Regions from separate parts of the Homo sapiens genome. Here region 1 is linked to region 2. The links come from fine-mapping of genetic effects on gene expression. A gene starts in region 2. The other region holds a variant in brackets. All regions are shown on one strand. Distances are between the middles of the regions.

The links. PIP is the estimated chance that this variant, and not a neighbour inherited with it, causes the effect.
Region 1: its variant is fine-mapped to the expression of SOCS2-AS1 in whole blood (TOPMed, PIP 0.90).

The regions. Positions count from the first base shown.
Region 1 is chr12:93,740,699-93,743,499 of GRCh38, forward strand. The region is part of intron 2 of CRADD (CARD and death domain containing adaptor protein); the gene reads left to right. Among named protein-coding and RNA genes, the nearest start is that of CRADD-AS1, 4.3 kb to the left of the region's middle. RefSeq lists enhancers at 620-1,576, 1,577-2,533 and silencers at 1,620-1,789, 1,820-1,909. The variant G/C (reference allele first, on the strand shown) is at 1,535.
Region 2 is chr12:93,569,993-93,572,793 of GRCh38, forward strand. It overlaps SOCS2-AS1 (SOCS2 antisense RNA 1), which reads right to left and starts at 1,406. Exons shown (of 4, transcript NR_038263.1): 1 at 1,273-1,406. It overlaps SOCS2 (suppressor of cytokine signaling 2), which reads left to right and starts at 2,683. Exons shown (of 2, transcript NM_001270471.2): 1 at 2,683-2,801. RefSeq lists silencers at 450-499, 560-749, 1,120-1,399, 1,760-1,809, 1,820-2,129.

The DNA of each region.
Region 1 (2,801 bases), 170 kb after region 2:
TAAAAAGCCAGCGTTGACTAGTATTATGTGGCTAGTTATATTTATTACAGCAGTCTAGTTATTGTTTGTGTAACTATAGTTTTTTTCTAATAGAAATAAAATGTCTATTTGCAGGATAAAAAGAAGTATGTATATTTGATGATTTTGTTGTAGAAAATACTTAATACCTTTTAAAAGCTGTTTGACTTTCGGTTTTAAAACAGCTGTGTAGCTTGGTGAGTCCTGCAGATTCCGGCTTTCTCTGTGGCCTTTGAGCCAAGTAATTTTTTGCAACATTTTCCTTTGCTTTCTTATAAACACTCAAAAATTATACTTGCTTTTCCTGAAGGCCAGCTATTAAGTTAGAAAGCACCAAAGGTGTTATGAAATTGCCCTTTATTTTTTCGTACATCAGGGAGGAATGATAGATTTTGTGTATCTCTTGTGTGTCATTAGAACAGAAATATTTAGGGCTGCTAACTCCCGGAGTTGTGTACTTACCCTTATTACAGATGCAATGATTTTGTCTGACTGCATTGCTTTAAGATGAGTTTTATTGCTTTCATGCTTAGGCAAGGATATTTAATTTTATTTGTGTTTAGAGTATCTTGTTGTAATATACTTCTCCCCCATCTTGTGCTCCTAAATTTGGGATAAGCATAGAATCCTTTTAAGAATGTAGGTTATTTTCCAGTTTACTAGAAAGCATGACACATATAAATTAGCGACTAAGGATTATAGCGTCCTTTCCTAAAGGTTATCATGAAAAAAAGTTAAAATGTCAAAGAAGATCCTACTCCAGTAAAAACAATTTACTCTGTAAAATCCTGATACCTCATAGGAAGCTTTGGATCTTGTTCTCAGCTACCAAAATTCTTTAAATATGAAAGTTAACATGACAGGAAAGTGGAATACACTCTGTGCTGAAGACCCACTGTTCAAGGTGTGTGGTTATTAATCTGGGTTTGAATTTACAAATTATATGGTCTGATTAATTTGTAGATAGGGGTCGGTGGAGGTTAGACGATGGGCTTTAGAACAAAGAGGCTGATAAAATACTACTCACAAGCCTTTCTGCTTGTTTGTGACTCTCTGGAAATGCCATTAGATAGTTCTCATAGCTATGGTCAAAATAAGTAGGCTTAGAAATAAAAGACATTTTCTCCCCTGTAAAAGGAGGCGGCTGGCCTGTGCTCTTTCTAGGCTCTTCCCAGAGACAGCAACCTCGGCTTCTGAACCCTTAGTGCTCATTCTATGCTCCACCGCGTCTCCTCTACACGCCATGATCTTTGTTATCTGATTTGCTAGCCATTGTTATGGAAAGTTCTCGACTGTAATGCAAAAAGCTCAGCCTTGGGTCCTTGCTAATGTCAGCAACCCAAAGGCGCCCCTCAAACCACCTCGAAAAGAAAAATCCTTTAAAAGATGTCAAACTCTCCTTTCATGTTAGCCCAAAATGAAGTTCCCGAGCAGCATCTGGCAGAGCAGGGTAATTCAATCTATTTTAATGCAAAGATTTTCCAAGAAGGCAGGAAGCCGTCAAGGAGAAGGCTTT[G/C]AGGCATCTGCTGTTTTGTTTCCAGATCCCTTGTGTTAATTTAATGTTTCTAGGGAACCCGGCTCTTTCTTTTTTCTCGGAATCCCTGCTCTAGGAACTGGTGAGTGCGGGGGCGCTGTGGGAGCTGCAGATAAGCCAGCGCTTGGCCGGGCACCCGCGGGCCGCGCAGCGGGGCAGGGAGGCGCGCGGCCCCAGCCGCCCTAGGGCGCCGGCTGCCTCTGCGGGCCCCGGCTGCCCAGCCCAGCGCGGGGAGGCGGCGCCGACTGCCGGGGGGCGCCTGCAAGACCTGTTTATTTGCATTTGTCCAATTTGGCTCAAGTGAAAGGTAAATACGGAGCGATCAGCTTGTCCTCACTCCAGCAAAACCAGGGAAACTCAGCTCCATCTCCAGGAAACAAACCCAACCCAAACCTGAGTGAAACGTAAATCTTGCATAAACAAACACGTTCTTTTGCTTCTGGGAAGGAACACCGGAGAAATGGGCATTCCTTCCGACTGCCCGCCTCCCACTGTCGGTAAAAATGAGCCGTCACAGGTTGCCGGCAATTTCTTGTTGTGTCCCGAGCCATTCCGCGGATCTTGTTTTGAAGGGGCGAGTCAGGTGTTTGTGCGGCTCCAGATCCTGAACAGGTTATGCGCTGGGTCCTTCCTTATCAGGAGGGGGGTCAGGCTGCCCTCCCATTCTCATCTTCCGCCCCAGACCAGAGGCTACACCAAAGTTCACTTTTGAAAAGAAATCCTGCAGAATTAAAAATAAATGTCTGCCCTTTAAAATAGTTTCGTTTTAGTATTATGCATATTTCTGTTTAGGAACTTGTAATGCTAATAATTTATGTTGCTATGACAATTGTCCTGCATACCTAATATTAAATTTAATGAATTAATGTGGCGTATAGAGTAATAGTAACTTAACTAGTACTCCGATAATGCCAGTATTCCCTGTGTTACTAAGTTAATGGAATCAGAATTTTGGAGTTACAATATAGAGGTTTTTTAGGCCAATTTTTCTATGGGATTCTAGGGATCTTTTTATAACATTTCTGCTTTTCGAAGCAGTCTATACCATTGCTGGAGAGCCGTAATTACTAGGATGCTATTTCTTTTTGTTTGTTTGTTTGAGACAGGGTCTTGCTCTGTCATCCAGGCCGGAGTGCAGTGGGTCCAACTCAGTTCACTGCAACCACCACCTCCTAGGCTTAAGCGATCCTCCCACTTCAGCCTCCCCAGCACCTGGGACCACAGGCCCTCGTCACCGTCTGGTTAAGTT
Region 2 (2,801 bases):
GGGGCGGGTGCGCAGACAAGGAGATGAGTTTCCACTAAGGCCAGGGGGCCTCCAACGGGGTTGGAGGTGAGAATCCCAGGTAGGGTAGAGGTGCCGAGATCCTTCCGAATCCCAGCCCTGGGGCGTCAGCCCTGCAGGGAATGGCAGAGACACTCTCCGGACTGAGGGAACCGAGGCCAGTCACCAAGCCCCTTCCGGGCGCGCAGGTAAGGGCGCCCCCTTAGCAGCCGGCGCAGGTGACCCGGGCGGGCCGCCGGGTCTACCGGAGACGTTGGAGCAGAGGGGAGGAGGAAGGGAGGAGCCGGGTGGGTGCGGGTGACAAGGAGCCGGAGCGCCAGGGGGAGGGGACTAAGGACGGCCGGCGCCGCTTAAGGAGGCGCTGCTCTCCCGCTCGCTGCCTTCCAGGACCTGATCAAGGGGACCGCCTCCGGTCCCCGGCCGTGGGCACCGGGACGAGCACGGCGTCCCCACGCCATCGATGTGTCTTAGAGCCGGAGAGTCTGGTTTCCGAGGACCCACAGTCGCTCCTGCACGCCCACCCCCCGCAAAAGTGCGGCCAGGAGGGTCGCATCGAGGGGGCGCCGCCGGGATGTTTAGAGGAACCCACCCCCGTGGCAGGCCAAGGGCCAAGGATCGCTATCCTTCCCTGAACCCGGGCGCTCAGCTGGCCCGGGTAGGGGGCAGGCTCCGGCCGCCGAAACGGGGTTGGCTGTAGCCGGTGGCCGGGGAGATCTCTAGCTTGCGCCCGAGCACCCCGGGGTGTGGGGCCAGAGGCAGGCCGACCCCGGCGTGCACACCGCCCGCCCTGCACCCGAGCGCTCTCACCCGGTCTTCCCTGAAGCCTGTGTATTGCGACCGAGCCTCTTTAAAGCAGTAGCGGGGCCCGCGGTCACGTGAGGCCGATTCCTGGAAAGTTCCTGGAAAGCCGCCTCCGCAGCAGCCGGGCGGGGCGCGAGCGGAGCGCTGACTGGGGAGGGAGGCGGGGAGCAAGGGAGGCGCGTCGGTCTGGGAAGTCGCGCGCACTCGCTGCTCCTGGGACCGACGTTTAACTCTTGCCAAGTCTCGTCGCAGCCGCCGCGGCTGGCGGGCCTTGGGCTTCCCCTGAAGCATGAGCCCTCTCGCCCGCAGCCACCCTCACCGCGTGGCCCGCGGACAGTGCGCGCCGGGGTCCCGGGTGCACAGCCTCAGGATACCCCGTGCCCGCAGCTCGGGCGCCCGCGGCAGGTACCGGTAGTGGGGGAAGCCCGAAGGCTCCGCCCCGAGGAGAGTTACCGGGGAGGGCGGCGAGGCGCGGCCGCGTGCGCCGGGGAGCGGCGGACGGCCTGGGCTTCCGCAGCTCGGAGCGCCGGGGAAGAGAGAGTCCGAACCGCGGCTCTGCCCCGCGGCCTAGCGTTGCTGCCTGCTTTCTCCAGCCCCTTCTCGGCGTCTGGAAGTGTCTGGAGTTTCTTTTTTTTATTTCCCCTAAACTGCCATTCAAATTAATAATCCTCCTAATAACCTGATCTCCCGCTCCTCCCCACCGGCCTGCCTCCCGCCCTCGCTCCTTCCTCCCTCCCTCCCTCTCTCCTTCCCACCTCCAGGGTCGCAGCCGGAGGGAAACCCGGCAGCAGTCCGAGAGTGGAGGTGTCCCAGCCCGTAGGGGGCGTCGCCGCGCGGTGGGGGATGGGGTCGAGGCAATGATCCTCGAGGCTTTTGTGTGCCCTCTGCGCACGGAACTCCGACCGCCGCCTCCGAGCGCGGGGCTGGTTGCATCCCCGGGCATCTCGTTCCCAAATTAAACGTTAACGGGGGAAACAAGGGCAGACGCCCCTCCTCTCCCGGGCCCCTCCCACCTCCCCTTTTCCCCCCACCCCCCCGCCCCATGTCCGCTGAGGAGGCTGCCTGGTGCGGAGGCGGCGGCGGCGGCCGCGGCCGAGGTCGAGGTAAGAGCGCGGCGTTGGTGGTTTGCATTTTCCGCAGCGCTCGCGACCGCCCGCTCGGCCCCGGCCTCGCCTCGGAGCCCCGCGAGGGCTGCGCGCTCGGGCCGATTCCTCGACAGCGCCCGCGGCGGCGAGAACCACCGCAGCCATCCTGGTCCGGGAGCGACCGCCGCGGCACCCCCAACCCCGCCAGAGCGGGCACCAGGAAGCGGGGGGAGGGGAGCGAGGAGCCTCCCGGGCGGAGATGCGGCAGCTCCCGCACCTCCGCACCCCGGGTTGGTGCCTCGGGGCCCCGCAGCGCTTTAGGGCGGAGAACCAAGTTTGTGTGGGTGCTTCTTCCTGGGGGCCCTCGGGCTGCGCCAGGTGTGAGACCGGAATGCCAATTTGGGGAATCTCTCCTGTTCTTTCCTTTTTAATTTTTTCTACTTGTCCTTGACAAGGGCCTATTCCCACTGGATCTGCAGGTGACTATTTGCTCTTCCTAGGTCGCCAGTCTTTGATTTCAGCTAGTGACCCTGGGCGGGAAGACACCCTGTTCACCCTCCTCCTGACCTCCGCCCCCCACCTCTTCAGCCAACTTTATCTTGGATCTCTGCTCTCTTTATCTTTTCTCTAGAGCTGGGCCAGGGCGCTAACTGGAAGCTTGGGGTTAAATGGTGCAGGAACGTAGAGGCGGAGGAGTCCCTGGGATTTTCCACGTCTATTTCCCCACCCCCACCCCAGCCGCAGGGGTCCAGTTTGGACTGACCCAACCTCCCGCTTTCTCTTTGTAGGCGATCAGTGGGTGACCGCGGCTGCGAGGGACTTTGTCATCCGTCCTCCAGGATCTGGGGAGAAAGAGCCCCATCCCTTCTCTCTCTGCCACCATTTCGGACACCCCGC